Regions from separate parts of the Homo sapiens genome. Here region 1 is linked to region 2. The links come from fine-mapping of genetic effects on gene expression. A gene starts in region 2. The other region holds a variant in brackets. All regions are shown on one strand. Distances are between the middles of the regions.

What was found. PIP is the estimated chance that this variant, and not a neighbour inherited with it, causes the effect.
Region 1: its variant is fine-mapped to the expression of PRDM10 in skeletal muscle (GTEx, PIP above 0.99).

What each region holds. Positions count from the first base shown.
Region 1 is chr11:129,928,413-129,931,323 of GRCh38, reverse strand. PRDM10 (PR/SET domain 10) reads left to right here. Exons shown (of 21, transcript NM_199437.2): 11 at 66-308. Among named protein-coding and RNA genes, the nearest start is that of NFRKB, 34 kb to the right of the region's middle. The variant C/G (reference allele first, on the strand shown) is at 1,811.
Region 2 is chr11:130,001,398-130,004,308 of GRCh38, reverse strand. It overlaps PRDM10 (PR/SET domain 10), which reads left to right and starts at 1,474. Exons shown (of 21, transcript NM_199437.2): 1 at 1,474-1,587. PRDM10-DT (PRDM10 divergent transcript) reads right to left here and starts at 1,685. Exons shown (of 1, transcript NR_024233.1): 1 at 1-1,685. RefSeq lists silencers at 751-1,140, 1,851-2,170, 2,181-2,230, 2,261-2,440 and an enhancer at 1,251-1,340.

The sequences.
Region 1 (2,911 bases), 73 kb after region 2:
ATTCTAAATCTGAGCTGACAGTCCCTCCGGCACTGATCTCTATTCCTGGTTATTGCAAATTTCAGGACTTGCTACATTTTCCCACAAAGGAGCAATTTGATGAGGCTGAACCAGCCACTCTGAATGGGCTGGATCAACCAGAACAGACCACTATCCCAATCCCTCAGCTGCCACAGGAAACCCAGTCTTCCCTGGAACATGAACCAGAAACTCACACCCTGCACCTGCAGCCGCAGCATGAAGAGAGCGTGGTGCCCACCCAGAGCACGCTGACAGCCGACGACATGCGCAGAGCCAAGCGCATCCGAGTAAGTGGGGAAAGCCGGCGGCTCCTGGCACCAGCCGCTCATCTTCCTCCCACCACCAGCTCTCTGGTGGTTTTCTAACCTATTCACCTTCCTCTCTGAAATCTTGCATCTAGCCTGTCACATGCTCGATCCCCTTATTTTGAAAGAAAGTGTTCACTATTTCTCAATGTCTCTGTGTCCCATGGCAGGCTGGCATGGCTGGTCCTAGATTTGACCAATTTAGTGACGACACAGAGGCCTAGAGGTTGGCAGCTCCTGGACTAGCTCTCTGCATCCCTCAATTCACAGATTGGAAGTGGAGAAATAAGTACATTTAGTTATAATAATCATTTATATTTTAAACCAGGCTAATTTGTGCCTAATCATAGCTCTCAAGTTGATTTTGGGTAACTAAATGTGCTTATCTACAGCTTCCCAGGGGAGAATGGCAAATGTCATTACTCATCAATGTAAAGTGACCTGTGTCCAAGTTGATATGGCAGGTACAGTTCACACACCTGCGGATAGCTTGAGCCAAAGCTGTCAGTTCGAGAGTTAGTCAGTGTCTGAGTCACGGGACCTGTGTCTTGGCCTCAGACCATGCGGCTGCAGGGCTTTCCTGACTTGCAGTTCAGATGCGTTTTCTCTTATTATTTCACAAATAGCATTTGACTCTGAGTTAGGAACTGCAGGGGATTCGTGTGGAAAACAATATGGCTTTGTGGGATAAGTGTCTGTGCTGATAAAAACCAATGACTTACAACCCATGTTTATGGCAGCTGAGTGCATAAAGACATATTGGTACTTTCCAGTAGATGAAAGAGACATTTTGTATAACTTCCCAGGCTTTACAATTTCTACATGCATGATCGTTCAGCGTATGTTTCTTTTGGTCTTCTTATTTGCCTCTAGGCTAGAAGGGACCTTGAAAAATAGTCTAGTCCATGCCTTCATGTAAAAACACATTTAAACATTTGTAGTCATATGATAGCTTTGAAGGGCTCTAAGAACTGAGGCTAAACAGCCTTTATGAGAGCCCTGTAATCGAAACATATGAAACTCTCAGCTCACTGTATATTATTTCACAAGAGTATATCAACATACAGAAATACAGGCCAGCAAGGAAAACAAGCTATGAAGTAATATCCCATCCATCCTTCTCCTTTAGTTCCTAATCTGCACTTCTTTCTCTTGCTCAATTACTATATTTTCTGCTTTGGCCATTCTGATTTTTTTTACTAAGTCCAGAGAAACCCTTGCTAGATTTTTTTTTTTTTTTTGGAAGGAAAAAAAAAAACCGAAGCCCACACATGCAGTGAAGTTGTGGATGCACAAACACAGTCCAGCCGTAATTGTACTTGCATTTTTGAATGAGCAGGGTTACTGGTTTTGGTGCAAGGTTCCTTGTGTCAAAGCGAAAGCCATATGTATCTGGCTTTTGGAGGTCAGTCTTAGTTGAGCTATTTTGTTTTTTTTTCTCTCACACATTCTAAAAAGTAGGGCTATGTATTTTTTCATCTTTT[C/G]TATCCAGATTGGTAATGACCAACTGAAGGGAAGTCTTCCAATCCAATTGGTAATGTAACTATTTTTCTCTCCTCTAATGCTGCCTGCTCAGTTGGAGCTGCAGGTAGGTTTGTTTCCTGTGTTTCACATAACAGAATGTTACTTGTTTGCCTGACCTGCTGTTCTTTGCAACCTGTACTTACTAAATCCTGGTGGAAACCACAGTTTGGTTGCTACAGTAAATGCAAATTAATGAATAATGATAATTTATTTGTAAATAGATCAAGGAATAAATTGTGGGCTGCAGGTTCCTCATATACAAAATGAAGGGTAGGACTAAGTGATCTCCAAGGTCCCTTCCAGCGCTAAAACCATTGGAATGACTTATGCAATAGTGTTGAGTTCTAACTGTCTATTTGGCACTATGCTAGGTACACAATAGAATTTTCACTTGAGCTTGCAGTCTAAGTAGGAAATCAATACTAATGTAGGGGAGTTTACAGTTAGGTGTTAAATGTAAAAGTATAACTTGGAAGAGTGAAAGGTTGAAGTAAAATAGAGGAGTCAGGATAATTCTTGGATAAGGTGAGACTTAGACTAGCCCTTGAAAGAGAGGAGGAAGGTAGACTGTTTCAGAGAATGATAGCCATAGGATCAGAGGCCCAGACACAGGAGGTTCTTGCTGTGGTTGGGACAGTGCAGACATGAGCCTGGCCCTAGCAGGGGTGCAGTGGAAGGATGGTGCAGAGTGAGCCGAGTTGGGCAGGGCTGGCCAACCAAAGGCTTTCAAAGTGGGCAGAAAATTGTCCAAAGGAAAGTTGTTTAAAAGACCCCAAAACTGCCAGGCATAGTGTCTCACACCTATAATCTCGGCACTTTGGGAGGCTGAGGCAGGTGGATTGCTTGAGCCCAGGAGTTCGAGACCAACCTGGGCAACGTGGTGAAACCCTGTCTCTACTAAAAAAAAATACAAAAAAATAGGTGGACATGGTGGCAGGCACCTGTAGTCTCAGCTACTCAGGAGGCTGAGATGAGAGAATCCTCTGAGTCTGGGAAGTCGAGGCTGCAGTGAGCTGTGATTGTGCCACTGCACTCCAGCCTGGGCAATGGAGTGAGACCAT
Region 2 (2,911 bases):
TTTGAGACCAGCCTGGCCAACATGGGGAAACCCCATCTCTACTGAAAATACAAAAATTAGCCGGGCGTGGTGGTGCATGCCTGTAATCTCAGCTACTAGAGAGGCTGAGGCAGGAGAATCGCTTGAACCCGGGAGGCAGAGGTTGCAATGAGCCCAGATCTCACCACTGCACTCCAGCCTGGGCAACAGAGCGAGACTCCGTATCAAAAAACAAAACAACAAAACAAAACAAAAAACAGTAAAGAGAATACTATTGAGTTAATTTTACAGTTTTTCACGCTGTGGGTGTTTTCTATTCTCGTCTTTTGCTTAGCTGTCCTGTCTCCCTCTTTTTCTCAGGCAATAGTTTAGGATTTTTGTAAGTTATATTGTCAGTACTTCTCATTTAAGTTCCAGACAGTGTGCTAAGCAAAGCACTTTACTCGGTAAAGTAAGAGCTCACTTAATCTTCAAAATAACGTAGCAAGGTAGATATCACGAACATAGCAAGGTAGATATCACCGAAGGGAAAACCGCTCCCCGAAGGTCCGAAGGTCCAAGGTCTCTCTGCCATCTAGCTGCCCTGCGTATTGCCTGCCAGTGGGTAGTTGGAGCTGGGTATCTCTCCAAAGCTGGGCTCTTGGCTGCCCTTTGTGAAGGCAATTTTAAGGGACAGCAGGATGTGGAAGCCTGCGGTTAAGGAGTGAGCTGAGTCACTGGGTAACCAGTGTTGAATAATGTTTCTCAATGTCTGAAATGACACTCACTTCCTTTCCAGATTGGTAGAGGAGAAAAAAGAGGCGCAGTGAAAGCGCTCTCAAGGTGCGGTGGGTCAGGGTGATAGGCGGCGCCCGGCCGCTCCCTGGGGGTCCTGAGGGCGAGACCCCGGCAGGCTCCCGACTCCGGGAGCCGGGCGGGAGTTCGGTTTTCGCCGGCGCTCCACGGCCAGGCCACTTCGGAGGCAATCTGTGGCGGGGCGGGCGGACGCGAGGGCCGCCTCACCCCCGCGCGTCTTCCGGGACACCGGGCCCTCGGGCGCGCGGGAGGCGGGCTTAGCACGGGCGCAGGCTGCCCTCGGCGCCCGAGACACCCAGGCACAGCTGGAAGCTTCCTCCCCGTTAGCACGCGGGCCGCAGCGGGGGCTTGACCCCAATGCGAAGAGTCGGGTTTTCTGATTGGCTGAGAGTAGAAACGCAGGCGAGCGCCGCCTGAGACCCGCTCTGCGATTGGGTTTTACACGAACAGCAGAGCACGAAATAAAGAGGCCTTCAGTCATTGGGCCATTATGTGAATCTCCTTTTGGCTTCTCTGCAGACTGAATAAGCGTCTCAGGATCTTCGTCATGACTCCTAAATCTGGGCCTGTCAGTTCGCCCCAGCGTTTCTCGTCTCTAGGCACGGCATGGGGCTTACAGAGTTTAACCAATCATATAACGTCGAGATCAGGTTGCCAGGCAGATTATGCTAATAAGACCCCGCCTTTTATGCTGCTCCCACTCTGCGGCGGGAAGAACCACCTGGAGGTGGCGGGGGGGGTTGATTTCTATCACCCCTAGGGAGAGAGGATCGGGGACCCGCTGATCTTCCAGCTCCCCTCACCCAACGTCGTGTAAGTACCTAAAGGATTAAGGGAACCAGATAAGCCAGGGTCCAGACTACCCCATAGACTGGGAGGGTGTTTCGTCTTTGCTTAGTCCCACCCAAAATGGCGCCCAGCTCTTTCCGCGTCTCAGAGCCCGGCCGGGGCCAACCGACCGCGGACCCGGGTGGGGGGGGAATTGATGGTGGTGGTGGGGGGGAGAAATCCCGGCGGCACCGCCCGATGGTACAGTCCAGCCGGGGCTGGGACGAGGCACCTCACTCGGGGTGGGGGGTCAAACCATCTGCACCTTCCAAGGGGAAGAGGGCAAGGCCCCCTCCAGCAGGCCCTCCTGGCGCCGCGTTCAGCGCCGGCCTCGGCGTCTCGTCGCCCCTGCCTTCGCCGCGCGCAGCCTCCCCCTGCGACCCCCGAGTGGCTCGCACGCTCCGCCGGCCGCGCGCACCTCTCCTCCCCTGCCCGCGTTGGTTGGGCCGGGACGGCGGTTGGGCGGCCTGCGCGCTCCGGCGGCGGCGGTTGCGCGGGCGCTCCGGGCGCGGCGGGCAGGTCTCCGCCGGCCGGGAGCCGAGCACCGGGGGCTGGGGGCCGGGCGCCGGGCTGGGGGTGGCAGTGCGGGCAGGGCTCCGGGGCTGGCCGGTTGCGGGCGCGTGGGGCGGAGGGTCCTGTTCGATGGGGCGCCCAGCTTTGTCTGCGGAGGCCGCGCCGCCCACTTGCCATCGATGGCTGGGCCCCCGGCCTGCCTTCCCAAGCTAGCGTCCGGGACCGGGGCGGGGGGCCGGCCCGCAGGGGTGTGGGGTGGCCCCTGCGGGTCTGTCCCGTGGCACCGCGTCGGGGCTGGCCGGGCGGAGGCGGAGGCCGAGGCCGGGGTCGCGGCCCTGCCCCAGTCCGCCTGCACCCAGGGTGCAGCGCAGAGGCAGGGCGAGGCCGGTCGGCGCTCGGGAGAGGGCTGATGGTGTGCACCTCTCCAGCCCCTCGCCAGCTTTTGTTAAGCAGGTTTAACCCTGCAGCTAGGTGTTGATACTCTACTAAGTAAAATGGAATATTCCCCGTCTGCCCTCCAGCCACGCGAACGCAGCGCTGTTGAATTTGTGTGCGCGCCTTTAGCCTTGCTTGGTGGATGAGTTGGATTTTAGTGCATTTTCAATCAATGTGCGTGTACACTTAAGCACAAGGAGAGGTGGCTTTGTGCTGTCATCGAGGATTAGATGTGTGATGAGACCCACCCAGCTCTGCCCTGTGCCCTAATTCTGCTGCTTTGCCTGTTGAAACCTTGCCTGTCTCGTCACCCCAAATTCTCTAAACTTAGCAGTACTTAACCTTTATTAAAAACAGCAGA